Regions from separate parts of the Homo sapiens genome. Here regions 1, 2, 3, 4, 5 and 6 are each linked to region 7. The links come from fine-mapping of genetic effects on gene expression. A gene starts in region 7. Each other region holds a variant in brackets. All regions are shown on one strand. Distances are between the middles of the regions.

Region 1 (4,000 bases), 100 kb after region 7:
TCTTTATTATTGCCTTTCTTCTACATTTTAAGGCTATGTTGCTTTGTTTTCTGTATATAACACTAAATTTCAGTATTTTCAGCATTGTTTCTTAATATACTTAAGGCCATGAATGTCCCTTTGAATACTAGTCACAACTAGCTACCAGGTCCTTAATTCTTCCAAGCTTGCTTCATTATACCTCTTTTTCATTCTTTAGCCCAGGCTAAATTAGTCGATTACATTCCAACATACCTGGGCACATACCTCTATTTTACATGACTCGTATGCCTCTTTGTTTGCCCTCAAACAAGATCCAGAGCCACCCTATCTCCTACGTGTGGCATAACCGTAACAATCTAGCATTTATGAAGAGCAACTTTGAATTGTTTAACTTTTAACATGTATACTTATTTTTCCCAATTAGGTTGCAGGATTCTAGAGGGCAGGAATCCTATTTTATACTTCTATGTCTAGCACTGTGATTTGTGCAAAGCAAATGCCGACTAAGTGTTGGTGGTGACGTAAACATTTTTACCTTAAGTTTCTCCAAATCTGGCCTTTCAATACTGACAACCTCTGCCAGCAGCTGGGCTTCTAGACCATCTTCTGTGACTGTGAAATTGAGGAGAGTTGTCTGAGCTTGTAATTCCGGCTTATAGTGAGGATTTGCCAATTTTGTGTGAAGGATAAGGCGAAAGTTCTTGTTAAATTCACATTCTTTATCTCCAATCCTGATATACCTAAACGGAGCAAAACACAGACTTTCAGGAGACTCCTATGACCCATAACTGATACTACGGTGTCATTCCATTCCTGTATTCTTATAATGGACCTTGGCCAGAAGCTCAGGTGATTGAGAATTTTTCAGCTACTCCCAAATTTCCTAAAGTACAGCAGGATCAGCAATCACCCAGCAAATCTCTATATGATTTAGTTTCCTCATATGTGAAATATTGACAATAATAGTACTCACCCCATAGTGTCACTGTAACAATTAAATACAATCATATAAAAGACCTATAACAACAAATATTAGCTTTTATTATTATACAGTAAGTCCTCGATGTAATCGATAAACTTGCAAACTGTGACTTTAAGCAAAACAACATATGAAGAAACCAGTTTTACCACTGACTAATTGATATAAACAAGAGTGAAGTTCCTATGGCATGTTCCTGGTCACAAAAACATCATCAAACTTCTAAATAAAGGCCTCAAACACCTCTAATATTAAACACTGAAATAAATGTGAGCTACATATACATTTTAAAAGGTTAATAAAAACAAGATAATTATTTACTCAATTTTTGGTGCATTAGTGAGAAATGGTGGGCATAGAGGGGGCAGGTTAAATTGAGAAATAAATGTGTACAAAGCAGAAAATCTTAAGCAGCACCTCCTACCACCACACAGTTCAAAAGCAATGACAGATCTGGCAGGCTTGAGAAGGGCTTTTGTAGTGCAATGTTCAGTGTCGTGCATTTGTATGATTATCGTCTAATTTACAAATTTTTATTTGACAATAGTTTGTATTCACTCATTCATTCCTTTTCTAACCCACTGATTCCAGTTCAGGCTCCCGGGTGGCTGCACACTACCCTGGAAACTCAGGGCACCAGGTGGGAACCAGCCCTGGACAGGATGTCATCCCATGGCAGGG[A/C]CACTCACACACCCCCACACTCACTCACTCACACTGGGACCATATAGACATTCCAGCTCACCTAACATGCACAGCTGTGGGATATGGGAGGAAACAGGAGGAAAAGAGAAAACCCAGGCAGACATGGGGAACGTGTGCAAACTCCACACAGACAGTGGTCCCAGCAAGCAGGAAGTGATGTTTTTTTCCCTCATCAACATTAGCATGAAAGTATGTTATTTCAGGGCCAGCTGTACTTTCTGTGATTAAACATACATTAAATGTTGCAGTTCTTTAAGGATAAGATGTGTATGTATGTGTTTATGTATATCTGTATATATATGTATAATGCATCTTAAGTATGTATTTAATATACTTATGTATCTTAAATAACGTATTAAAATATTTTATTTTTATAAAGATGAAATATTAAAAACACATATATTCTTTTTTGTGTGTGTGTGACAGTGTCTCACTCCTTCACCCAGGCTGAAATGCAATGGTACAATTTTGGCTCACTGCAACCTCCACCTCCTGGGTTCAAGTCATTCTTGTGCCTCAGCCTCCTGAGTAGCTGAGATTACAGGTGCATGCCACCACGCCCAGCTAATTTTTGTATATTTTTAGTAGAGATGGGGTTTTGCCATGCTGGTCAGGCTGGTCTCCAACTACTGACCTCAGGTGATCCACCCGCCTTGGCCTTCCAAAGTGCTAGGATTACAGGTGTGAGGCACCTCACCCAGCCCAACACATATATTTAAAAAATTACTTTCCAATACTTTCTGCATTGGCTTCCTGTAACTGCAAATCCTTGTCTGCCTCAACATCTCTACTTAACCCTTTCCTCTGAAAATTATTTCTGTAAATAGTCACTAGGCTAATTCTATTCAAAACTCCCAGCTTAATTCATGTTATTTTTTTAATTTAAGGGTACGTAGTAATCATATGTATTTATGGGGTACATGAGATGTTTTCATACAAGCTTCATGGTCTCTTTCCTGCTAGGAACCTGCTATGAGGATCTAGTAAAGGGGGAGCTTTCTAATTCATGCAAGAGACAGAGAAGCCAAAACCACGAATACTGGAACTTCTCAAAGCGGCCTAAGCTGCTTAGAGTGAAACTTCTTATGAGGCCTAGAGGCATGGCTGCAGCAAACAGTCTCGGCTCAGTCTTCTATTTTACCTTACATATGAAAATTTTGGATTCTTCATTATTAAGTGTATAAAATATTTAAATTGTATAGATGTCATGATAGAAAATTAGCCAGAGCCCAATTATTTTAATTGAAATTATTTTAAATAGCCATGAGAAAAAAATATTTATTGCCTATCTCATTGACTTCCAGGTGAGATGTTATTTCACTGAATTTGTCAATTTTGAACAACTGGGAAAATTCTAAAGAAAAGATGTTCTATCGCATTCAGACAGGGCTCCTTTTTATCGAAATGTCACAATATTAGCAACAATTTTTAATTTGAGGAGTGATATCCAGAATGCCATAAAGTGGCAATGTTTTCTGTGGTTCTTGGATGATGTTTTATAATTGTGTCTTGCTCAGAGATTAGGTCTCTTGTGTCTATGGTAAGGAAAGTGCCTCTGAACCACTGGCTGTGTTATTTGACTGGAAACATTTTTAATGAGACAACTGGTTTTAATGTGTAAAGACTATTTAAAAATTAAAATTTTCTTACATTACTAAAGCTTTTGTTGCCTGAATATGAATTTAAAATCCCAAAGGACTGATCAGACTTATGACCTATTGTCTTCATCTAATTCTCAAATGTTGTTTTCCCTGCAGAGTGATCTTACACTGACAACAGAAACCTTCAGAGTTGTTGATTAAGTGTCTAAACTTGAAAAAATTCTGCCAGATAAGCCACTTTTGAAAACCCTATTAGTTGAATGGTGAATTTATTCACTTTATTCAGTTTGGATTTGTTTTTACCTTGTCAGTACCTCCTACTATTTAATTGTTTTCCAAGAGGAGAATAAGCAATTCAGCTAGCAACCCTCTTCTGCCCAAGCCAGTATATACCTGTGCATTACATACGTCCCCTTTTTTTTTTTTTGAAACGGAGTCTCACTCTGTCGCCCAGGTTGGAGTGCAGTGGTGTGATCTCGGATCCCTGAAAGCTCTGCCTCCTGGGTTCACGCCATTTTCCTGCCTCAGCCTCCTGAGTAGCTGGGACTACAGGCGCCCACCACCACACCCAGCTAATTTTTTGTATTTTTTAGTAGAGACAGGGTTTCACCATGTTGTCCAGGCTGGTCTCAAACTCCTGACCTCGTGATTTGCCCCCCTCAGCCTACCAAAGTGCTGGGATTACAGGCGTGAGTCACCATACCCGGTCGGCATCAACTTTTAATATAGTGATTTA
Region 2 (4,152 bases), 42 kb after region 7:
TTGTAAGATTCTTTCTTTTGTTCTGAACTTCAGCTTGCCCAGTTATTGGCGGAATTGAACTCGATGCCAGATTTCTTCCCAGTACGAACCCCAACCTCAGCTTCTGTAAGTAGAACTCCTTATAATTATACCAATACTGATATATGGTGATCAGCCACCAGACGGCTTTTATTCGAGAGAGTCCCCAGTTGTCTCTGTCTGTGCTCTTGATTTCAGAGGAAGAAGACAGTGAGGCGGGCCTTCTCGGAGGGACAGATCACGCGGCGTATGAACCCAACCCGGAGTGCGCGGCCTCCTGAGAAGTTTGCTCTAGAGAACTTCACTGTCTCAGCCGCTAAATTTGCGGAAGAGTTTTACAGCTTCCGAAGAAGGAAGACAATTGGGGTATTTTCTGACTAATACATGAATTAGTTTTTGTCTGAGCTACCATCCCTCCAAACGTGAACGCACGTCACTGTCACCCCAGGGCTGGTTCTGACCCCGTGGGTCTGCGGCAGCTGAGAACTTGCATTTCTCTCTGCTTCCCAGGTGATGCCATTGCTCCTGAGATCACACTTTGAGAAGCAGCCCTGGTCTAAGCTGGAGGTCACAGAGAGAGTCTTTTATCCAAGCCGAGCTGAGAAGCAGCTCATTTGTTAGGACCCTGCTTTAATCTCTGCTGCAGGCAATAAAGAAAAGTGCAGTGATTCCTCCTTGCCTTTCTGTTTTAGGCATGAGGCGTTTCAAGCGCTTTCAGTTTGGAGGGAGCAACTGTGGACCCATTTGTGGGTTTGGCTGTTCAGTGTGGTTCACCTCTCCACAGAGTTTACAGCAAAGAACCAAAAACCTTGAGTTCCTCCTTTATGATTGTATCGCCTTGCTGAGAAGGAAGCTTGGCAGGTGGCAGGAGCTCAGTAAATAACTAAATGAAATGGCTGCAGGGAAATAGAAGAGGGACGGGGTTAACATTAATGGTGCTAGATCTTTGAGAGTTTAAAATATTTATAATTTTTTTATAACTGCTCAACACATCTCCATGTTCTGCTTGTGTTCATTGTGCAGGGGAAATGCCGGGAGTACAGACGACGTCACCGTATATCTTCTTTTCGGCCAGTGGAGGATATCACCGAAGAGGACTTAGAAAATGTTGCCATAACTGTTCGAGATAAAATCTATGATAAAGTTCTGGTAAAGTATACATTAATTGTCATTCTTATTGGGAGTCGAAGGCATTGGTATTGAAATCTCACTTGTTTTTAAACTCTATCAGGGCTTATGCCATCTCACCAAGGGCTCAGAGCCAGGCTCTGAATTGGAGGGTCAAAAGTCAGCTGTACCTGGGAAAGGGGAGGCAGCCTAGTGCAGTAATTCCCATCTGGACGGCGGTCTCTCTTAGGGATGCGTAGAATCTGGGGGAAGGGAACGGTATAGTTTAAAAGGGATTTTTATATGTAACTGTTAATGGTTTAAGCATATAGTTTTATGTTCTAAATATTGAAAAAAGTATATTTGGGGGGTAATATAACCATAGAAATTAAAGTTTGGCAGAATATCTTTGGTAGGAAATGGGTTAAATTTCTTCTAAATGGTGATTTAGAGGGAGGCTTTGCGTTCTGCATTTTTTTTGTGTTTTTCTGGATATGTAACGGGACACTGTCAAGTTTTAAATTTAGTTGCCAATATTTAAAAAAAAATAGATCTCAC[A/G]TTGAAGGTATCCAGGTCTGCAGAGCTAGGCTGGGGCCGAGGTGATGCCACCCAAGGCTCATTGCCCCTCAGTCACCTGTCACCTTTCAGGGGCTCTGCCACCCCTGCCTCAAGCTTTTCTCTGGTCTCTCTTCCTGACAGCCTGATCATTTCATTCCTTCTGGGTCTCTGCTCAGCCTCATCTGACCTAATATGTTTCTCTGGCCACAGACCTGTGATGGTTACATTCTAGAGCAGTGGTCCCCAACCTTTTTGGCACCAGGGACTGGTTTTGTGAAAGACAGTTTTTCCATGGATTTGGGGGGCAGGAAGGGGATGGTTTCAGGATGAAACTGTTCCACCTCAGATCATCGGGCATTAGATTCTTATAAAGGGTGCACAACCTAGATCCCTCACATGTGCAATTCACAATAGAGGGTTTGTGCTCCTATGAGAATCTAATGCTGCTGCTGATCTGACAGGAGGCAGAGCTCAGGCGGTAATGCTCGCCCGTCCGCTGCTCACTTCCTGCTGTGCAGCCCGGTTCCAAACAGGCCACAGACTGGTTCTAGCCTGGGGGCTGGGGACCCCGGTCTAGAGACAATGCTGTGGTTCTTAGGAAAACAGTCCTGCTTGATTCGAGGAGACGGGGGTATTTCTTCATATACTTGGAAATGCACATGGTGGCATCTGGCCTCATTGGGCATCAGCATATCCCTGTGTTCACCTGCTCACTGCCTTCCCCCTGTAGGGTAACACGTGCCATCAGTGTCGACAAAAGACCATCGACACCAAGACAGTGTGTCGGAACCAGGGTTGCTGTGGTGTGCGAGGACAGTTCTGTGGACCATGCCTGCGGAACCGCTATGGGGAGGATGTCAGATCGGCATTGCTGGACCCGGTAGGAACAGTGTTTGCATTTGTTGTAAATTGTATTGGTGAAGGAAGCAAGCTATAAAGATGGGCCTCCTGGGTTCTCACTGGGAACTAGGGAGCTCCAGAACTCTGGTTTTTCCCTTCCATTTGTATCTTAAGGCTCCAGGGAAAATGAAAAATAGGGATTCCTTCTGGAAGGAGAGCAAGCTGACCAGTGAATAGAAGAATTAATGTTGTTAGATTTTCCATTGTCAGAGCAAAACTTGCTTACAGTCCTCTAGTTTTATGCAAGTAATCCCTGTACCTGTCCTTCAGCAAAGTGATTTCCCTCTGATTTGTTTTGTTTTTCCTGGGCCAGGCTGAGAGGGAGGTGGAGATTGCAGTATAGAGTGCTCTCTGTGTGCCTGGCACTGTGCAAGCTGTCGCTCACTCTGTTACCATAAATTTGTTTAATCCCATGAAATAGGTGTATAACCTCTCTCAGCTCCCTCGGTAAAATGAGACATAGTATCATGGTGAGTAGGCACGACCTTGAGCCTGGGGCAGTCCTGCTCCCGAGTGTGACCTCTTAGGCAGCAGTCATGGGGTAAATATATGGTCCTCAACTGACAGACAAACAAACTGCTGCTCAGGTTAGTCATTCAACAATAAGCACACATTGAAAGGGCTGAAATTCATACCTTGATATTTTGGAAACCTTGTGCTCCTAAACCAGGGCTGACATCCTGGGCCTGTGACCTGCATGCTCGCACAGGGCCCTGTGCTTGGCCAAATGCTTGTGAAAATCTCCATAATTTTTAAGCAAGGAGCCCTAAAAGGTGTCATTTTTCAGTGTTTGCATGTGACGTGGGGTGATTCAGCCTTCCTGCCTTGTGAGGAGCCCCCTGGGACGTAGACTGAAAGATGCCATGTGATTAAAGGTTGGAGGAGAGGCCAGCTGAGCCATTCTGGATCCGAATCCCAGTTCTTGCCAGACCCTGTAGATAATGAGCGAAGTGTCTGCTGTCATCTCTCTGTTAGGATTGGGTGTGTCCCCCCTGTCGTGGGATCTGCAATTGCAGCTACTGTCGGAAGCGTGACGGCCGCTGTGCCACAGGAATCCTCATTCATCTGGCCAAGTTTTATGGTTATGACAATGTTAAGGAATATCTGGAGAGGTAAGTAAGTCTCTAGCAGCTTACAAAACAGCTTGAAATCTTGAGGCTGAGCACAGGAGACCCTCTGGGCAAGTAGTTGTTGCCTTCCCGTGTGACTTACTTACTTATATAAACCACGAGTACCATCCATTCTGTATCTGTTTGCATTGGAAAAGCTCAGGCCTGATATTTTCCCTATTAGGGAATCTTCTCCTTTGCTAGATTTTTCAACTCAACTCCACGTTGCCTTTAACCAAAATTTCTCCTTGAGGTGTATGACAGAAATGGAAGGAACAAACAAACAAGGCAGGCTGAGGGGAAAGACACAGATTATGAAGAGGCAGCCATAATCCTAGTGCAGAGAGAGAGTTCAGGGCAAGAGGACAGAATGTGAGTTACAAGTTTCATTTATGTAATTAATAAACTCTGAATCGTGGTTCTGGAATGCGGGAGTGAGGCAAGTCATGCTTGGGGCGTA
Region 3 (4,000 bases), 230 kb after region 7:
CAGGGGCAAGTTGGAGTATGGGGCAGAGGAGGAGATCTGTCTCAGGCACACTGAGTGGGGCTTCTTGTAGAACAGCATGCTGAAGGCGAGGCCCCAGAGCAGCCAGAAACACAGAACTTTCAGTTCAGAAGACACAGCCAGGCTGGAGGGTATGGATTTGGCATTGTCAGCTGGGGTTAGAACCATCAGGGATGGGACTACCCAGAGAATGCATAGACTTAGGAGAGAACAGGGCAAGCAGTATAGATCTATAACATAACAAAAAGGTACAGATCACATGTTTTAACCTCCCCATGACCCTGTCCCACACAAAACTGGAAACTGGTCCTGTAAACTATTTCTAAACATACCTGATCTTGTAGCAGGGTGCCTCCAAAAGCCCAGATACAAGCAAATACAAAATAGACTTCATAAACTTCTTTTGGGCTGTCAGAAGGTACATTTTCAGGAGTCAGCAAGCACTCCAAAAGAACACATAGAGTCTAAAGAAAAAGAAATAGTCAAATAAGGCAACATTTTTTTAAAATAGTGAAGTTCAAAGAATATTTTTACAACTCCACTTTATCCTTAAGAGAGTACATAGTTTTTCCCAGCTGTGATTTGCTACATTGGGAGAGACAAAAATTACCACCTTGGGTGTCTAAGTTAACAGTAGAAAACTTGTCACTTTCAACCAAAATGATCTAGGTAATAAACTATTTTTTAAAAACAAAATTTTAAACAATCCAGTTAATAATCAGTATACAAACCAAAATCACACATAAGCAAAAAAAAAAAAGGGTACATATTCACTTTTTTATAAATAGGAAATCATTTTCTAAATAGTATTCTATAATCCACTTCCTTGATTAAAAACTGAAGACATCTTTCCTTATCAATAAGTGTTACTCTACACCACCACTGGAATGGATGCAGAGGATTCCATTGGATGAAGAGGCATTTATTTTACTATTTCCTTCTTGTTGGACATTCAGATAAACCACTTTCGGTAAGCGCTTTGGCAGCCAGTTTCCCACCCGTTGTCATAAATTTAGAATGTTGGACTGGCAGCTTAAGCCTGTGGCAGTTTTTTGGACACCGAACTAAATTTAACCTTGAAAGAAATGCTGTTCAGGAACTCAGGAACGTGTTCTTCATACTCTCCAGGTGAAATGGCAACGTGCTGGGCGGTCCTCATGTACCTAGCCCATGCTTAGGGCAGTTGCGCCAGCAATGAGGGGAATGCGGCTGCTGCAGAGGCCTTCACCATGTGAAATAATAACCAGTAATGAACAGGTTCTGGGGCTAGCTCTCTAAAGCACAGAAAGTCGTCATTAATTAGCACTGTTACAGATCCTAAAAACTCAAGAGACTCTTCCCCCAGTTTTTGCAGGCAACGATAGATTTTCATCTCTATTATACACACAGCAACGCAAGCGATCACAGATCAGGTCAGCACTGTGTGTGTGCCTTTCCTTCCTTGCCACAGAAGATGGGGAAATACTTTTCATTTAAATTATTGAGCACCTATTATATTCTTTAATCTTCTTTCTTGGCTTCTATTATTTCATGTTGTGCCACATTTGCCAATTTGAAATAATCTTTTAATAGAAAAAAACTCACCAATTTGCTATTAAGAAAAACAGTGTAAAACTCTGAGGCTTTGTTATTTTTTAGTAGAAGCCATGTTGTTCTAAGGCACTGTTGAAATCAAAACAAAAAAGACTGAAGGGTCTCAACGTGACGCTATCTGCTGAGATGAACACACGAATACGGCCATGTGTTTCTTCTATTTTCTCCCACAGTACTTGAAATATATTTTGAGTTCTGTGTCAGCATTTAACGTACTTTAATGAGTAATCTGAAAGAGTTAATAAACCTTACCAAACTTAAAGAGGCGTCATATATCGGAAAACAGAGTGCATTAATTTCTCAAGATAGCCATTTCAGGTCACTATCTTCTTATACCCATTTTTGTCTCAAATTTCCATACTTATTAGTAACCACAGAAGAGAAATTACTCTATAAAACAACAGCTTAAAAGGAGCTAAAAATTAAATGCCCTTTCTGAATACAACAAAAGAAAGAAGTAGAGCAGAAATCATATTAATTCCTACTGACCTATTTTCACACTACTCTTGAATGGAAAAGTTCACACCACAGAGAATCACACAAATACACAAGT[G/C]AACTTGAGAAAGAACACGATAATGCTTTTTTGCAAGTATTACACCAGAGGGAGTCTAATTAGGCTAACTACATAATTAATTCATAATGAACAAATTCAGACCTGCTTTCGGAAATAAATTATACCTCAGATAATTACTGTTGAAGACTATCGTTTATTTAATTGGTGTGCGAATTATCCAAAAACCTGAACTTTCTCTTCTTATTATGCTTGTGACTATTTCTAATTTTGCGTCAAACAAATTTGGTAACACACTCACTTAATGGTAACAAAGTACTTAGAAAGCAATTTTGCTCTTATAGCAAAAAAAGGGTGTGGGGGTTTCTAATTGTAAACCTTTTCATGAAGTCTTCTACTTCTAAGGGCTGGGGATAGTTTTTCTTCATGCTGAGATGAAGATCACAGCCTTCATTTCTGTGTGTTGTGAATTATTTTCATTGGCTTCCATGACAACATATTATGTGTAACCCTCACTCTTACCAGCTGTCTCAAGATGAAGATGAGAAAAAATATATCCCTGGGATATTATGAACTCTTCATCCAGACTGACACTCCTCCATGAATATTTTTGGGAGGGGGAGGCCTGTGAGTGGTGGCACCTAGGTGGTAGAATTCAGAGGCTTTCTCTTACTCACTGGCTGGCATCTTTAATTGCACAAATTTGTTTTATTAGAAAACATACTGAGCACCTTCTCTGGGCAAGTTACTTAGGAACCAGAAAAATAAATAAAGCTATTGCAACTTTGTTCTTCTAATTCTGTGCAAAGACACTGGAAAGGAACACAGTGATTCAACAAACACATATCTGGCACCTACTATGTGCTAAGAGCTATCTGGGGATACTAAAAAAAAATCAGTAAAACATGGTTCTAACCTTCTTTCACAAGATTGTGAAAAGAAGGAGAGCACAAACTTAAACACTAACAGAATGTGATAGAGGTTTGCAAAAAGATCCAGGGAACATGGGGGACGGGGGCGGGGGCAAGAGGGTTGCAGCAATCTAACAATTCCAGAAATCTTCTCACTTTCTTGGGCAAGGCAAGATCTTCTGTTGTCTTGATCAACAAACACTACCGCATCAGAACTAGAACGTTAAATGGCGTAACCGAAGACAAACCTGCACCAGGCTACTCTCAGGAATTGAAGTGATGGTTTTAAAGCTTGTTCTCAGTTTATCCAAGCATGCAGGGACATATTTATCAAAAAGAATAGTCAAATTGGCCTTTTCTGATTGATGCCGCCTTCTGTCTATCCAACTGGCCACATACCTGAAAAGGAACACAGAAAAGCTTTTATTGAACACTAGGCTTGAAAAGCAGAATTTCACCAAGTCAAAAGCTTCCTCCTTTGACACAGCTTGGTGCAACACTTCAAGGACACGTTTAGTGAGTTCGTTCTATTTTTCAAACTGCAAATATTTTAAAATGGCCCTTTAAAAACTTGTTTTAATGGCCATTTTACCTTAATGAAAAGACTGTAAAAGAAACTCCTAATAGCACTCAGAAGCCAAACATAATGGAATATAAGTAGACCATTACCGAGCATTTATGAGGAAGTGCACTATGTCATTTCCTGAAGGGCTGAAACTATTCCCATAGTGTAGGCCTTATTTATGAAAACAGCTTGTGATTTTTCTTGATTAATCTTGGCATCAATTATTTAGTAATAAGAAATCAGTTACGAATAAAAAGATGAAAATTCCGTAGGGGCTATTTCAAAGTGTCTCCTTTTTCAATGGACTGAATGTAACTCCAATCTGATAGCTGCTAACGAGTTTCCAATAGGTGGCTCTGATATGGCGTTTCATGCTTGGGTGCTGGGGTGTGTGTGTGTGTG
Region 4 (4,000 bases), 70 kb after region 7:
GTGTTGCCCAGGCTGGAGTGCAGTAGCGCGATCTCTGCTCATTGCAACCTCTGCCTCCCGGGTTCATGCCATTCTCCTGCCTCAGCCTCCCGAGTAGCTGGGACTACAGGCGCCCACCACCACGCCTGGCTAATTTTTTGTATTTTTAGTAGAGATGGGGTTTCACCTTTTTAGCCAGGATGATCTCAATCTCCTGACCTCGTGATCCGCCCGCCTCGGCCTCCCAAAGTGCTGGGATTACAGGCGTGAGCCACCGTGCCTAGCCTCAAGAGGCTCTTTAGCTGAAAGGCGTAGGTAGATGGTATCCTACAAGAAATGGTTCTTTATGTCCCAGCCACTTGATTAAATTTACATAAATATTCTGGAATGCTCAGGATAATAAAGCACTAGTATTAAACAAACTGTTCATTTTGAATACACATGCCAAAGTTTGGAGGTAAATTCTAAATTGAGGGGAAAGATTAAAAATATGGATTTAAAAATTAGCCAGGCATAGTGGCATACACCTGTAGTCCCAGCTACTCAGGAGGCTGAGGCAGGAGGATTACTTGAGCCCAGGAGTTCAAGGCTGCAGTGAGCTATAAGTGTGCTGCTGCACTTCAGCCTGGGTGACAGAGCAAAAAAAAGAAAAAAAAGGTTTAATTAGATTTGAAAAATACCCTAGCAGTACAGTTGACTTGTCTAAACCTCTTGGGTATTTTACTCCACTGTGAGGGACACCCAGGCAACAGGAACAACTGGTCCTCATTTACCTAACCCATATGGGTAACAAGAGAGATAGCATTCATCAATCTATCCATACACAGGCTTTAACAAGATTGGACCACAGCAGCAACACAGAACACCCCAAATAATACAAGGAGATGTGGGAAAGGACATCTGTGATGGAGACTGCTGATTGCCTTCCTTAAAATGTCTTCTTGCTAATTTTTAGCTGGGCATATGGTTGCTTAAGATAAATTCACTTTTCCCAGCCTCTCTTGCAGCTAGGTAATGCAATGTGACTAAGTTTGACCAATGAGATGAAAGGAGAATTTCTGTTTGTTAACTTGTAGGAAGCACTTGCACAACAAAGCAAACACCGTCCTTTTCCTTTTGTCATCTTGTTTGTTTCTTCTTCCATCCTCCTGTCAGGAATGTGGATATGGGGGCTGCAACTCCTGCAGCCACCTGGGACCGTGAAAAGCCCATTCTAGAAATGGTGAACTATAAAGAGCCAGATTGATGACAATTTGTGGTAACACATGACTTCTGAATGGACTATCTGTAAAACTCTCATGTGGCAGGACTACTTTTTGACCTTGTATAAGCCACTGTTATTTTATAAGAACTTTTTTCAAAAGTAGCCAACCCAACATTCTAACTGATAAAAGGGCAATGGGAACATATTCACAGAGAGCCAGGGAGCACAGGCTAAATCCCTTGAATTATATAATCTGATTAAAAACTGCATTTTGTTTTCTAACATAATGACAGGTCAGCATTCATAAAAGACTCTAACATTTTAGATTTTCTGCACATTTTTTATTTTGTTGGTTGGCTCTGGCTAAGATAGGTTTGATGAGAAGATTATTTAGTGAATCACTTTGGTTATCTTTGCTTTTGCTACTTAACATCAAGTTCAGTCTTAATATTTCAGAGGATCCTCTCCACTAAATAAGCAATATTCTTCCTTGGGCCAGGTGCGGTGGCTCACGCCTGTAATCCCAGCACTTCGGATGCCGAGGCGGGCAGATCACAAGGTCAGGAGATCAAGACCATCCTGGCTAACACGGTGAAACCCCGTCTCTACTAAAAAACTCAAAAAATTAGCCGTGCATGGTGGCAGGCACCTGTAGTCCCAGCTACTCGGGAGGCTGAGGCAGGAGAATGGCGTGAACCTGGGAGGCGGAGCTTGCAGTGAGCCGAGATCGTACCACTGCACTCCAGCCTGGGCGATAGAGTGAGACTCTGTCTCAAAAAAAAAAAAAAAAAAAAAAAAGAAATATTCTTCCTTGAAGTTCCTAAAAGCCCTTCTAATAAAAGTAACCTTCAATTAATAAAAGTGGCTTTCCAGATAGCAGTCAAAAGAATTGACAGGTTCATGAAAAGACCAGAACAGGTGTTCTTAACTAGGGAATTCATGCATAGGCTTTGGGGGAATCTGTGAATCTTTATCATTATATGCAACATATTTTTAACACTTATTATTATTTTTTGAGACAGTGTCTCGCTCTGTTGCCCAGGCTGAAGCACAGTG[G/A]TGTGATCATAGCTCACTGCAGCCTCGAACTCCTGGGCTCAAGTGATCCTCCTCTCAGCCTCCTAAAGTGCTGGGATTGTAGGCATGAGGCACTGTGTCTGGCCCAATGTGCAGTATATTTTCGAACGTGTATTTCCCTGGGGAGAGTGTCCACAGTTTTATGAGATTCTCGAAGTGATCTTTACCAAAAAAACAAAACAAACAAACGAACAAAAAAGCTGAAGGATAATTGGGCTGAAGCATATTTGTTCATGAAATGTTCACTTTCATGAATAAAGATACTTATTTTAGGGGGCAGATAAGTCCTATTTAAATAAATCAAATTCCTCTTTGTATGTACTTTGGGAAATAGCTTGAAAATGTCATAAATAGCCAGAAATTATAAATTAAGAGATGATTAAAAAACATATATGTCTGTCATAGTGGATTAAATAAGGCATATTGCAGATACTTAATAGTTTCAAAAAGATTTTTTGAGTCCTACTATTTACACAATCTTGTGTGTATATATAGGATAAAAATTACTCAATTATTTAATGAAGTAATTAACTGCATTCTTCAACACTGTATTCTTAGGTAGTCAATTATCATAATTCCTTCATAATGTTGGTTTACGTATTGACCCAAAAGTTACGAGAAAAGAAGCTAAGGATGTTAACATGCTTCGTAGAGAATGATATTTCTAAGAGGGGGCTGAATATTTATCACCAAATCATATGTATTTCCTCTTTAGGGTTCATTCTACTGTCCTAACAAGAATGCGATTTACCAAGGATTTCCAAAAAATTAGAGGAAGGAAGGAAGATCTCAGAGCAATAGCAAGAAAGGAAACTGAAAGACTTGACAATGATGTTGATAGATAGGATAGTTTGGGTAAAAAGAGTAATGGTAATAAAGGTATCATATATATATCATATATATGTGTATATATATGTATATATACGTATGTATTTATGTATTAATTTATATATGTATTTGGCCAGGTGCAGTGGCTCACACCTGTAATTCCAGCCAAGGTGGAATTGGGAGGCCAAGGTGAACAGATCACCTGAGGTCAGGAGTTCGAGACCAGCCTGGCTAACATGATGAAACCCTGTCTCTACTAAAAATACAAAAGTTAGCTGGGCTTGGTGGTGGGCGCCTGTAATCCCAGCTACCTGGGAGGCTGAGGCAGGAGAATCGCTTCAACCTGGGAGGCTGAGGTTGCAGTGAGCCAAGATCATGTCATTGCACTCCAGCCTGGGCGACAAGAGCAAAACTCTGTCTCAAAAAAACCAAAAACAAAAAAAAACCATGTAAGTATTCATTTGTCTTATCTTGGAAAAACATGAACATATAAATAAGGTGTCATAGATATAACCCAAAAAGAGGCCTTTAAATTTACTCATATCAAACCGGGCTAAAACACTACACTGAAACTTTTACCATGTCATTACTGTCGCCATCATCAACAAGAATAACAATGGCTTCTTCTCTTTCTGTGGTCAGAGATACTAGTGTGCCACATTTGTTTTCAAGAAGCAAGTTCCGGCCAGGCGCGGTGGCTCATGTCTGTAATCCCAGCACTTTGGGAGGCCGAGGCAGGTGGATCACCTGAGGTCAGGAGTTCAAGACCAGTCTGGTCAACATGGTGAAACCCCATCTCTACTAAAAATACAAAAATTAGCCGGGCGTGGTGGTATGCAGCTGTAATCACAGCTACTCAGGAGGCTGAGGCAGGAGAATTGCTTGAACCCGGGAGGTGGAAGTTGCAGTGAGGCA
Region 5 (4,000 bases), 170 kb after region 7:
ATAATATGTGTACAGACCCACACATGATTAACATCCTGTGATGATTCTCTCCTGATTTACTCCTGCAAGTTAGAGGCATCGCCCTTCGAGGGAGCAGGGGCCTCAGGACTGAGGACACAGATGTGTAAGAGGAGCAGACAAGTCACTAAGGGAGGAACAGCTCTACCTTGGGATCTCGCCACAGTCATTAGCCAGAAAATGATGCCCTCACTGGAGGTTGAGAATCTGAGACCAAAAAAGATACTGGTCCATCCTAGGATGATAAGAACCTTGACGACAAGTACCGTGCACTGAAGAAGTCAGAGACAAGAGAGGCAATCCGCTGTGTCTGCTCCCTTCAATATCCCACACTACCTTACACTGAGTCAGGCCAGGAAGAGAACGTTTCACCCTAATCCAGCTGTGAGTCGGCCAATCCCATTGTAGGCTTTTGAAAGCAGTAGCAGTGTATTCTTGGTGTCATGAAACTGTAAATTTCACCAGCTGGCATCTTATAGAAATGGATTTAGTAGTGCTTCAAAAGGAAATATATTTTTCTGTTAAACAGCATAAATATTACTCAGTAATAACACATCCTGGTCATACCTGAGAGGCTGTGGTTTTTAGCTTTTGGATGCCGTTCACCAGGCGTTCTTTTTTCTCGGATACCTCATTTTGCTTCTTCTTCAACAGGTTCTTAAACAGTGATATTTGTTCTAGAAAACTCTTTGGGGTGGTATAGTTGTGTCTTCTCTCATTCTGGTAATATCTGGTACTCATTTCATTTACAGTGGTGTGAACATGTGCCATGAAAAGGCTAATAGAGTCTTTGTGCACTGGCTGAAAACACAAACATTACAGTTCATGTGAAATCCTCTCAAATTAAAAATACAACTTAAAAAAAATCAAGTAAATGATCATTTTTTTTCTAAAAGTCAGAAAAAAAAATGATAGTATAACCTACGAAAACTTATTTAATCTTTAAGCGCTATCCACAGGATTTGGGAGATTACAATAAAGCATTCAGCTTGAGTAACCTTCTTCTTGCCAAGTAGGACAAAGGGTTTTTATGTGCTCCACATACCAAATACAAAAGCCAGCATATACAGATCTTCACAACTTGATTTTTATCTACCGAGTGTGTGAAAGAGAAGGTGGAGAAACAGACACAATATCCTGAGAAATATTTCTGCCATTGCTTTCAAACTAAGCTTTAGACAAAGAGAAGCAATAACCCTGCAAAGTCACTGAAAAAAAAAAAAAAGCCAAAACTTAGAAACTCACAGTTTTATGAGAACTCATGTAAAAACAAACTGGATAGTAGGGTATAAATGTCACTGCTTCTGGGAGAAAAATATCATGATCATTTCTATTCATATTTGGGAAAGAAAACCCACAAAAAGAGCAACTCTCCTTCAATGAGTTACTGGAAGACCCCCCACTATACATTCTTTCCATTTTGTCCTCTATGACTTCTGAAGTAGTTAACTTTTTAATTTGCAGAGTCACATCTCCCTCATTTTAATGATTATTTATTGCATTCTGTACAAGATGAACCAGGTTCAGTTAATCAAGGGAAGCCTACAAATCAATTAATATGAATTAAATGAGCTACACCAACTCTTAGGAAAGTCACACATAATTTACCAAAGTGTTGTCAATAATGCTCAGACGTCTTTGGGAAAATTGCACACACGTGGCTGGTGATGCAGTCAAACATTTCAAACCTGCACCATTAATATTACAAGCAGAGGTGTGAAGAGAGACCAGCCAATTCTTGGTGAAAAACAACTGCTCCTGAACAATGTCTTTAAACAATCAACTTTCCAACATCACGACAAATTCCCGAGTGGGTTTGGAATACCCACATATTGCATTGTGCTGCGTATTAAAAATCCATCTCACTAGTAACTGAAATAATGTATTACTAAAACAAAAGTTAAAAATAACGTGATATAAATTCCAAATATTCTTGGTTTCTAGTGGACCCCAGATACAAATATATTTCCAAACAGTGAACTCAGAAAAATAAAATTTATGAAGAAGTTTATATAAACTTCATATAAATCATAATCCTTTGGAGACTTTATTTTTACAAGAGCTTGACTTCAATACAGACATGTGCAGGAATTTACTCCTGTCCTGTCTTGTTTTAATGGGAACTAAAGGTACACACATACCTTTCTACAATA[T/C]AGATAAATAATTCCTCAGCCAAGTGTAACCTCCTTACAGGAAGGGAAAAAAAAAAAGAAAGAAAGAAGAAAAAAAAAAAACACTCTGGCCTCTGCCCAACCATGATCCTTATGAGGAGGCTCCTTGGAGGCGCTGAAAGCTCTCTTTAACAACAGTTTCATTTGTAAATCGGGGATGGAAGAAGTGGTTTCCGGTAGAGCTGAAAGTGGCCTGAGACAACTTGTCTCAATGGGGCAAAATAACTATTGTTATCAGGCTTAACAAAATGGCACAGCATGGGAGACTCGCTGAGCCAGGGAGCAGCTGGTTGTAATTCACACTGTTTTTCAGAAAACTCTAATCGTTCCAGAACAGACCTCTTTGATGACTGGTCTTCCCTGCATTCTCAATTTGTCACTTTCTCTTATGATAAGGTCAGTAGTGACAGCACTTCCTGACATTAACAGCTGTGGCTTTTAAAAGGGTCATTGTAGAACTACTAATTGCAGTAATTTCATTAGCATAAATTATTTATTCTGCCATTCATTTATCTCCAGTTATTTTATTTTATTATTTTTTTTTGTGGGGGGCGTTGGGGGAGAATTGAGAGGAGTTGCTGCTGGTGCTGCCGCAGCGAGGGCTACGCAATGCTGTATTTTTCACTTTGAGAGACGTGAGGGGAGAATATCATTCCTGCTAGATTTGGCCTCTTAATAAAAACCAGTTGATAACCACTTATAGTCATTTAGCAGCTAATCATGATGATGGCAAAAATAAAAATAAGCAGAGTGCCAGTATCGAATGGTTATAAACTCAAGGTTTCCCCACTAAGATGCTCTGGAAAACGATGCTGTCTCCAACGCATAATCAAATGCAAAGATGAAACTGCTTTCCCTCACATTAAGAAAACGTGTTTAATTTCTACTCTCTCAGTTGGCTCACTGTCAACACAAAAACATAAACAGATCTCTGCTATTTGGTGTGACAGTTCTCGGGCAGGAGTAGTCTCTGCCACACCAAGTACTCCAGCCACCTGGCACTTCAAGCAAGTGCCCAGTATATTCCTCTTGAAAATGACAAACAGCAGAGTTGAATATAAACCAATACCCAGAGGTCAGCACTAAATCAGTTTAGGATTTTATACCTTCCCAAGACCAGCAAAGATGACTACATTGGTCTGTAATACTAAATTTGGGCTTTCAAGAGCACTGTATTCAAGGGAGGGAGGGAGGAAGGGCAAAAGAGAAAGGGGCAGGTGAAAGAATCTATTTTCTCTCTTTTTGAAGTGTAACTTGGGACAATTTTGTCACATTAAATGCCATATACCTACAGTAAGTCTTGAACATTTTTCTCAGAAATTATTTCTGTGTTAAATTTTAAATATGTCAAACTGATGTGCTACACAATCTATTTGATCTTTTTGCTCCTTTTAGGGCTGGTAGAAGAATATATTAATAAGATATTTGTGGTTGCATGGTGGCTTATTAAAGAAAGAAAACTTACAATGCATAAAATGGGCAGTGTTGCATTTTAACACTTGTCCTAAGCTCTTCATAGTGCTGTTTTGCTCTGAGAAGAAGATTCCGGAGGGAGCCAGGGACAAAGGGTTTGAATCCTAGGACCTGGGCTAGATTTCCAGTTCTGAAAAATCTGGTAAGATACTGCATACCCTCCTGTACTTCTTCCTGCCCACAAAATTGCTCCTTTAAAAATTCTGTTTCCTTTCTTCTTTTACTGCTTTCCCAATAGTCAAACATTCATGCAATAGTCAAAAGAAGGATTTAAGACTATGGGCTCTGGTGTCAAACTGCAGATGTACCCCTTACCAGCGGCATTATTTACTCTTGGG
Region 6 (4,152 bases), 25 kb after region 7:
AAGTGTGGTTCTGCAAACAGCTTTGTCCTCCAGACTATCAGTTAACTAATGGGCTTACAGGCTCAGATACCTGGTTGGTCAGACACTAAAGCTGAAGCCTTGGCACCTACAATGATGTATCTGAACCTCCCTTAGGTGAGAGAGTTGGGTTCTTAAGCCACATGCCCCTAAAGTGATGGTACCATTAAAACTAGGCTAAGGTCTGGACTTGTTCTGTCAGTTTGGAAGATTTCATTCACTTAAGGAAGGAAAAATTCCCCTCTACCCCGGTTTTTCTTTTTTTCTTTTTCTCTTTTAGAGACAGGGTCTCACTGACACCCTGACTGTAGTGTAGTGGTATGATCATAGCTCACTGCATGCAGCCTCTAACTCATGGGCTCAACCGATCCTCCCATTTTAGCTTCATGAGTAGCTGGGACTACAGGCACACGCCACCACAACCCAGCTGATTTTTGTATCTTTTTTGGTAGAGACGGGGTCTCACCATGTTGCCTAGGCTGGTCTCAAACCCCTGGGGTCAAGTGATCTTCCTGCCTCGGCCTCCCAGAGTGCTGGGATTACAGGTATGAACCACCATGCCTGGCTTAAATTGTCTTTCTTGTCTTTTTTCGTTGAATTCTTTTTAAATTGTGCTAAGATACATATAACATAAAATCTCCTATCTTAGCCATTTTAAAATGTATGGTTCAGTAGTGTTAAGCATATTTAAATTCCAAAACTCTTTCCATCTTGGAAAGCTGAATCTGTATCCATTAAACAGTAACTCCACGTTTCTCCCTCCCCTCAGCATCTGGCAAGTGCCATTCTGCTGTCTCCGAGGATTCAACCACTCTAGGTACCTGTTATAAGTAGAATCATACCGTTCTTGGTTTTATCGAGACTGGGTTATTATCATTTAGCATAACGTCTTCAAAGTTCATCCATGTTGTGGCATGTGTCATAATTTCCTTCCTTTTTAGTGTTGAATAATATTCAATTATATGTATGTCTCACATTTTGTTTATCCATTTATCCATCGATGGATACTTGGATTGCTTCCACCTTTTGGCTCTTGTGAATCATGATGCCATGAATAAGGGAAAGGATATAAAGTTTTTCTTAATCTTCTTAACACTTTGATGCCCTCTACTATTACTACTAGGCACTAGTAGATATATTAATACTGTTGGTAATATTTGGAATTCTGGCATTTGCAGTTTCCTTGGTGTCCCACAGAGCCCTATGAGTTCCACCGTGCATGTTCCCTGAACAAGTTTGAGATCCAGTCTGTAGATGGGAAGTTTCTTACCAACACTCAGATTCTCAGGTTCTCTGGGAATGTTGGAGGTCAGACACACCAGACCCCTGTTCCTGCAGGGCAGTGATCAGCTGGAGTGGAGGAGTGGCCTGCCTTCCCTGATATATGTGTTCAGCCTACCAGTCAGCACCATCCCATATTGTCCTACAGCTGACCTACTGCCCTGTTACCCACCTGCTTGGCCCCAAAGCCTGTTGAGTTGGCATAATGTATTTCAGAGAAAAGCTCTCAGGTAATCTGTATGGCTTATAAGGGAAACCTGCAGTCCTTTCTGAAAGGGGAGCTGTGAATATGACTGCTTTGTAGAAAGATGTCTTAGGATTCTGGGTGAAAATTTTTAATTCCCCTCATGTAGGAATGTCACAGAGTGTACCTTTTTGACTTAGTATTTTCCTAGTAAAATACACCTTTCTTAAGAAAATGGCTACAAAGTCAGATGCATGTAAATGCTTTCAGCAAGGGTTTGTTGATCATCTGCTTTAGGCTGGGCTCTATGTTAGGTGCCTGTGGATTCCATTCTAGTACCTGTGTTCTCATAGAATTGAATCCTGGTCCCCCATATGACTTTTGATGATATTCACACTGTTAATTCCAATAAAGACAGAGTAGACAAACAGAAACTGTACATGAAAGGAATAGCATGAAGTTGTCGATTTTTAACAAGTATTATAAATAATGAAACGGTCTTTTCACTTTCAGATGAGAATTTTCCCTTTTTTTTTTGGTTCACTAGATAGTAGTTATCCTAATTCAGAAGTTCAACTAATGTAAATATCCATTGATTGAGAAATTTTGTATTTTTGTTGTTTTCAGTTACTTGTTGTAGTTTTCTTTTTGGTGAGTCTTATGATTGGCTTTATTGTAATAGAATGGAACACAAACTTTGAAAAAAAAAAAAAAAGGTCTTGCATTTTTGTCTAGACTATGCAGCTACCCAGTGGATCGCTGCTGAATGGAACAGGAAAGTGACAGATCCTTGGGCCTAATGTATCACTGTGTTGTGGAACTGGTCATTCATTAGAAGAGGTCCCTGTGTATCCTTTCTATCAGGTCCTTCTCATATAAATCTTGCTGCCTTTGTTGCATCTGTTAGACAAATCAGTTCGTTGCATTGAGGACACTTGAATATTTTACAGTTTTTTTTTTTTTTTT[G/TG]GCAAATCTTGAAGCTTGTGACTATCTGAAACTCTTTTAATACCTTTTGAAGGATCAGAGCCCTGCGTACCCCAGGAATGCACACCGTTTTTTTGAAAGTGTGCTCTTTCCTTTTGTTCCTAATCAGTAATTATAGCCCCCTAATGGTACCTCTGGAGCAGATGCAGAAGTCAAAGATGCAGAAGGAGGAATTAGCTAGTCAGACACAGGCTCGCAGCAGTGGTGGGGCTGAACACAATAGCACAGGGACTAATGCAGTTGCTGCTGGAAGCAGTTTATTCCTATCACCAACCCTCTCCATTCCTTGTATGTATTTCCATTAAATCCATAAATGGGGTGCTCCTCCTCCTTTAAACCATTTATGTTAAAAGAAGCTTCTGGGCCAGCAGGGCTGTTTGAATTTTGTAGAATGGTGAGAAGGCCAAAAGAAAAAGACTGAAATTGACACACTGTCCCTCTTAGTGCCTCTGCAGGGACTGAACTCAGTGGCTATTATGTAGCTACAACATAGGCACACTTTCATAAGTATTGTCTGTGTTTCTCTAGTCTGGGTGTTTTCCTTGCGTATTAGTTCTGAGTGCTAAACAACAACAAAAGGTGTCTTTGAAAAGATAAGGTGGCAAACATTGTTTAACATACCTCCTTGAGAAAAGTTTCAATATTTTCCCCAAGAATGATGTCAGAGTTAGGCTTTGCTAGTGCTGCACTACGTGTGGCTGGTAAAAAAATTGTTAGTGGAACTCTACTTCTGTAAGTGTTGTTCTTGTTTGTCCCTTGCAGTGATTTTATTAGATGGTGGGAAAGTGTTTGTATTAACCCTTCAGCATCACTGAACTTGGGGTATCCCATTTCTGTATTTATGTTACACTTCCTTTGATTGAACCATTATTTTCTAATTATTTTTAATCAAGAAGCATTAAAATAAGGATGAAAGTAAATAGATTAAGGATTACCAGTTTCCTAAATGGAACCTGACTAAATGTAAAATTAAGTCAACACACCCACACAGAGAATTCCACGAAGCTAAGTAGCTTTTGAATACACAACTCTGTATATGCTAGTGCAGTGGTCAAAGTGTGAGATGGAGGACCTGAGACCCTTTCACGGGTCCATGAGGGCGAATGTAATGTCATAATAATACTAAGATTATTTGCCCTTTTTGCTGTGTTGATATTTGCACTGATTGTGCAAAAGCCAAAGTGGAGAAAACTGCTGATCTTTAGCATGAATCCAGGTGGTAGCAACAAACTGTATTAGTAGTCATTGCATTCACCTCCATGCACTCAATTTAAAAAGAAAATGTCAGTTTCACATAAGAATGTTCTGATGAAACAGTAAAAATTATTAAGTCTCAACTGTTAAGGACATCTTTTTAATATACTGCATGATGAAATGGGAAGTACATGTGAAACATTTTTGCATAACCATGTACAATGATCATCTGGTTAGCTGAAGGAAAAGATCCTGTGTATAGTGAGACTATGTTCCAGGGCTAGAAAGAACTGCAAAGAAATCTTGAACTGCACTGTTTGTTGTTGGTAGTATATTGGTGGCGTCAGTTTGGCGCTATTTTGTGTTTATTGTAGATAGAGCACCACATGGATAAGTATATTAAAAATTTTGGGAATCGAGGGTTTTCCTTGTGGTGGAACGGCGATGCTAATGTGAGATGAGGGAGAGATGAGGGAGCAGAGGAAGAAGCC
Region 7 (4,152 bases):
CTGGGGACCAAGTTTTTACTCTCTCATGGAAACATTTAAAAAGCAATCAAGCATGGATTTCTAGACAGACTTCTTAAAAGAAGTTGCAAACATTATGTCTTCTTTTTCTGTGTTGCAATATGTATACTGTTGCATCTGGAAGGGACACTCATTCTTGCAGTGCCATGATGAAACCCAGTGCTCACATCCCGTGAACCCTATCAGTAATAATTATTAGAAAGTATTACTGCAGTGCCATGTTTAAATCCTCTGGTTCCTTAGAGATTTTCCCAAAGCCTGACCAAAACAAAACAAAACAAAACAAAACAAAACACACCACTATATAATCAATTACTAAATACCATCAAACGTGTACAGGCTTTGCTAAGCACAGGAAGAAAATTTAGGGGTTGTCATCTGAAGACTTAGGGTTAGTTATGGCAAATTTCTAAACAGAAAGGTTCAACAGCTTACAGGTTTCCTGATACAGAAGTAGCTAGTCTAGGCTGCTTCAAGTGTTTTGCAAAATCTGACCTGCTTCAAATTTGTGCTCCCTTTTCCAAAATTGATTTGATTTAACCTACAATGAAAAGAAGTGCAAACAAGATCAGCAGTTCATGAGGAAGCAACTATCTAAAAAAAAAAAAAGAGGAAGAAGAGCTCTGATTGAATTAATTTTCACTCTAAGCTTCCTGGCAGCCAAAGGGAAAAAATACAGAAAAATGGAAAGAATGTTGGATCTGGAGGCATAAGGAATGGTTTTCAGTTTGGCAGTCTGCTGCTGTCACTTAGTGGCAGGGTGGCAGGGATCTCTTAATGTATTTTCTTAGATTCTGTTTCCTTATTTTAAAAATGTGGACAATAAGGATCTGGAAGGATATTGAGAGGATTCAAGGAGATACTGCATGTGAAGGAAAACTCTAAAGCATAATAAAAATGAAGTGGCCATAATGAATAAATAACATTATCCAATAAAAACAAAACATTTTAAGTCACACAATGTTGTATTGGTTTTACTACCACCAGGAAGTGAGAACACTGAGGGCTGGAACATGAAAGCACATAACACATGTTGTTTGCTGAACTAACCAAAGGAAGGAAGGAAACCTTTTCCATGTTTTCTCTTCAAGCTTGAGTAAATGTTTGGCAAATTTCATTCACTCGTTCAATAAAGAAAAGATGAACGTCAGATCCTAAGCAGCTGAGAGGGGCTGCAGAAGGTCCTATGCGTACAGGATGCTCTACTGTAAACCTATGACCACGGTTCTAAATAGGTGTGCAACACTGTCCAGCAAACCTGCTGTGATTTCAGGACAACTTCATTTACCATTCTCCCCACTCTCTACTTCAACTCTCCCACAATTTCCACAAACTTAATTCCTCACTCTTCATATCTGAACTCTAAGAAGTATTCCCTGACCTCTATCAGATTGTCTTCCTATTTCACACCACCATTAATACCACTTGCCTTTTTTCTCATGGCATCATCGCTCCAAATTTACATTTATTTGCATCATCATTACATTTGTCATTGATAGTGGTATCAAATTAATATTAATTATAAATCTAATTTATAAAATTTACATCGTTATTACACTTATTTGCATCATTATTGTATTTATTTAGAATAATGCAATTAGGTTGGTAACTGGCTCTCAGGCTGTAAACTCCAACAGAGCAGGGGCCTGTTTTTGTTCACCCTTCTGTTCCTAGGACTAGCCCAGTGCCTGATGCTTAGTAGATGCCGGGGTCAATTCTGTTAAATTAGTCAGCATTCCTGACCTCTACAAACTCTTTGTCTGGTGGGTGTGGAGGCCTACTGTGTAATGGCCGTCTAAAGTTTCAGGCGGGTTTGCATCTGTCCACCTGGGCCTTGGTAAAGAAACCTGGGTTGCCTGTTCTGCAAAGTGAACCCTGTAGCAAATGTTTTGGGAGACAGAATCTTCCCAAAGAGAACCCTGCCCCGTTACAACAACAAAACAAAACAAGCCCCAAAGCCGCCCTACAATATTTGCCTGGATCAGAGACAGGGGTTGCAGCAGAAGCTCGCGCCCCAGGGCATGACCTGGAATAAACCCTGCCAAGTATCCAGCGCGCGTGCCAGCTGGAGGCTGCGCCGGGACAGCCCCCTCATTTCTCCCGCGCTAAACCCCGCCGGACGGCTCCACTCCCTCCCTCTGCTGCAGGGGGGAGCCCGGCGCCCTAACACTGGTAATTGCTCTTGCCGCGCCCAACTGCAGCCCCCTCTCGCGCCGCCTGCGAAGACAAGGTCAGTGGCCGCGAAGTTGGAACGTGATCGGAGCCACGAGGCCCAGTGAGGCGGCACCGAGGGGGCAGCGCAACGCGCTCCCCCTGTCCAGGGCGTCAAGTGCGCCCCTCCCGGGGCCCGCCTGTGCTCCGGGCGGAGCGCGCTAGCTGCTCGGGCGCGGGGCGTTCTTGGTGCGCCGGGCCGTGGTGAGTCCGGGCTCCCGTGGCCGCGTGCTGGGAGGAGACTGGAGCCCGGTTAGGAAGAATGGAGTTGGCGACTCGCTACCAGGTGAGGGTCCGGCCGCCCGCCGCCGTCCGGACGCACCCACAGTTTGACTTCCCTTTGCCACCCGGTCCTGCTGGCCTTGGGCTGGAAACGTGGCCCTTGGCTGCGGCACTGGGGATCTGGCGCGCCCAGCCGGTTGAGTGCCGGAGTGGGCGCGCCCTGCAGGTGTGCGCAGTGGGTCACGTTTGTGCTACGCGGACCACAGAGGCCGGTCGCCCCAGCACACAACCGCGCTCAGCCTGGCGCTCTGCTCAGTCTCGGGTGGCCGCCGGGGGTGCAGGCGGGGAGCTAGCGGGGCGCAGCGCCTGCGTTTGCAGCCCTCGTGAGACGGGGGAGGGGCTTTTTTTGTGCACTCCCCACACTTTCTCCGGGAATTGGCACAGAGATCAGGAAGCTTAAGAAAGTTGTAATTTTTTTTTTTTAACAGTCGATCGCCAGACCAGTCCAACTTGGATAATGGAGTTTAAAAATAATAACTTTAGTGTTTATTCTAGAACTTTTGTAAACGTTTTCAAGGAATTAGTAACCATTTGGGGGAAATGGTAACGTCATTGGGCCGAGTTAAACAAGCTGCAAGATCCCAAATCATATGCACAGCACGACCCCAATTACGCGTTAAGGGCCTAACTCGTCTTTAAAACTCATTAGCAAACACTTGAGTAAGTTCCCCCAAACGTTTCAGTGAGTAGTGGGAATGTGAACGTGACTTCAGTTTTCTCTTTTTACTTCTTAAAAGAGCTTTTCTCTACGTTATCGTAATGGAGATACATGTTTACTTAGAAGTAAGCAATAAAAACATTTTTCATAAGAACTAAAAATACAACCTTTAAAAAGGGAAACAAGCAGCCACGCCTCTGCTTGTGGGAGCACGGAGATGCTTTGTGCGAGGATTGTTTTTTTTTTTTTTTCCACTTGTTTTATTGAGAGTCGCGAGACTCACTGCTTCCACCTTGCTTCCGACTGGTGTTTACTTTCCTCCACCTGCGTGCCTGGCCCGGGAGAAGGGGAGGCGGGGCCGCCAGCGTTGGAAGGCGCAGAGTGCCCGGCGCCCGAGCCCAAACCGCTGTCACCTGCCCGAGTCTGGCGGCAAAGACTGAGCCACTAACGGTAGCTTTGGCCTTTTAGTAATTTCTGAAGCCTTCCTGAAAATGGTCGCTTGAGAAAAATCTGTTGTTGATGTTTCTGAGAATATTTTTAAAATGCCTCCTGTGAGATAAACTATTAAAAGCAAGGGAAACAGTAAAGCCTACGGAATGAGACAGGGTTCGATTTTTTATTTTTTGCCACTGGCTTTTACCGTGTATTAGCATCCTTTTTTTTTTTTTTTTTTTTTTGGAGACGGAGTTTCGCTCTTGTCCGGGGTGGAGTGTAATGGCGCGACCTCGGCTCACTGCAACCTTCGCCTCCCGGGTTCAAGCAATTTTCCTGCCTCAGCGTCCCGAGTAGCTGGGATTACAGGCGCCCGCCACCACGCCTGTCTAATTTTTTGTATTTTTTTTTTTTTTTTAGTAGAGACAGGGTTTCACAATGTTGTCCAGTCTGGTCTTGAACTGCTGACCTCAGGTGATCCACCTGCCTCGGCCTCCCAAAGTGCTGGGATTACAGGCGTGAGCCACCACTTCCGGCTGGCGTCCTAACCT

Direction of the effects. Alleles are on the strand shown, and positions count from the first base shown. SD is a standard deviation of normalised expression in the study named. Not every link is listed here.
In carriers of allele G in region 2, the expression in skeletal muscle of the gene that starts at base 2,397 in region 7 tends to be lower than with A alone (small effect, 0.20 SD a copy in GTEx).
As copies of C replace G in region 3, the expression in prefrontal cortex of the gene that starts at base 2,397 in region 7 goes down (small effect, 0.37 SD a copy in CommonMind).
With allele C in place of T in region 5, the expression in prostate of the gene that starts at base 2,397 in region 7 is higher (small effect, 0.29 SD a copy in GTEx).

What was found. PIP is the estimated chance that this variant, and not a neighbour inherited with it, causes the effect. A credible set is the group of variants that fine-mapping cannot tell apart.
Region 1: its variant is the best candidate, but not a certain one, in a credible set for the expression of CDCA7L in whole blood (TOPMed, PIP 0.89).
Region 2: its variant is the best candidate, but not a certain one, in a credible set for the expression of CDCA7L in skeletal muscle (GTEx, PIP 0.82).
Region 3: its variant is the best candidate, but not a certain one, in a credible set for the expression of CDCA7L in prefrontal cortex (CommonMind, PIP 0.55).
Region 4: its variant is the best candidate, but not a certain one, in a credible set for the expression of CDCA7L in whole blood (INTERVAL, PIP 0.58).
Region 5: its variant is the best candidate, but not a certain one, in a credible set for the expression of CDCA7L in prostate (GTEx, PIP 0.75).
Region 6: its variant is the best candidate, but not a certain one, in a credible set for the expression of CDCA7L in monocytes (BLUEPRINT, PIP 0.71).

What each region holds. Positions count from the first base shown.
Region 1 is chr7:21,839,266-21,843,265 of GRCh38, reverse strand. DNAH11 (dynein axonemal heavy chain 11) reads right to left here. Exons shown (of 82, transcript NM_001277115.2): 66 at 518-722. Among named protein-coding and RNA genes, the nearest start is that of CDCA7L, 100 kb to the left of the region's middle. The variant A/C (reference allele first, on the strand shown) is at 1,643.
Region 2 is chr7:21,902,521-21,906,672 of GRCh38, reverse strand. It overlaps CDCA7L (cell division cycle associated 7 like), which reads left to right. Exons shown (of 10, transcript NM_018719.5): 5 at 34-105; 6 at 217-384; 7 at 1,042-1,167; 8 at 2,414-2,563; 9 at 3,559-3,695. Among named protein-coding and RNA genes, the nearest start is that of CDCA7L, 41 kb to the left of the region's middle. The variant A/G (reference allele first, on the strand shown) is at 1,684.
Region 3 is chr7:21,717,207-21,721,206 of GRCh38, reverse strand. DNAH11 (dynein axonemal heavy chain 11) reads right to left here. Exons shown (of 82, transcript NM_001277115.2): 43 at 3,282-3,432; 44 at 351-482. Among named protein-coding and RNA genes, the nearest start is that of DNAH11, 180 kb to the right of the region's middle. The variant G/C (reference allele first, on the strand shown) is at 2,165.
Region 4 is chr7:21,873,859-21,877,858 of GRCh38, reverse strand. The region is part of intron 74 of DNAH11 (dynein axonemal heavy chain 11); the gene reads right to left. Among named protein-coding and RNA genes, the nearest start is that of CDCA7L, 70 kb to the left of the region's middle. The variant G/A (reference allele first, on the strand shown) is at 2,240.
Region 5 is chr7:21,770,585-21,774,584 of GRCh38, reverse strand. It overlaps DNAH11 (dynein axonemal heavy chain 11), which reads right to left. Exons shown (of 82, transcript NM_001277115.2): 56 at 586-819. Among named protein-coding and RNA genes, the nearest start is that of CDCA7L, 170 kb to the left of the region's middle. RefSeq lists enhancers at 2,159-2,767, 2,201-2,833. The variant T/C (reference allele first, on the strand shown) is at 2,172.
Region 6 is chr7:21,919,640-21,923,791 of GRCh38, reverse strand. All of the region lies in intron 1 of CDCA7L (cell division cycle associated 7 like), which reads left to right. Among named protein-coding and RNA genes, the nearest start is that of CDCA7L, 24 kb to the left of the region's middle. The variant G/TG (reference allele first, on the strand shown) is at 2,450.
Region 7 is chr7:21,944,144-21,948,295 of GRCh38, reverse strand. CDCA7L (cell division cycle associated 7 like) reads left to right here and starts at 2,397. Exons shown (of 10, transcript NM_018719.5): 1 at 2,397-2,515. The coding sequence starts at 2,492. RefSeq lists enhancers at 1,799-2,048, 1,733-2,443, 2,439-2,588 and a silencer at 2,729-2,778.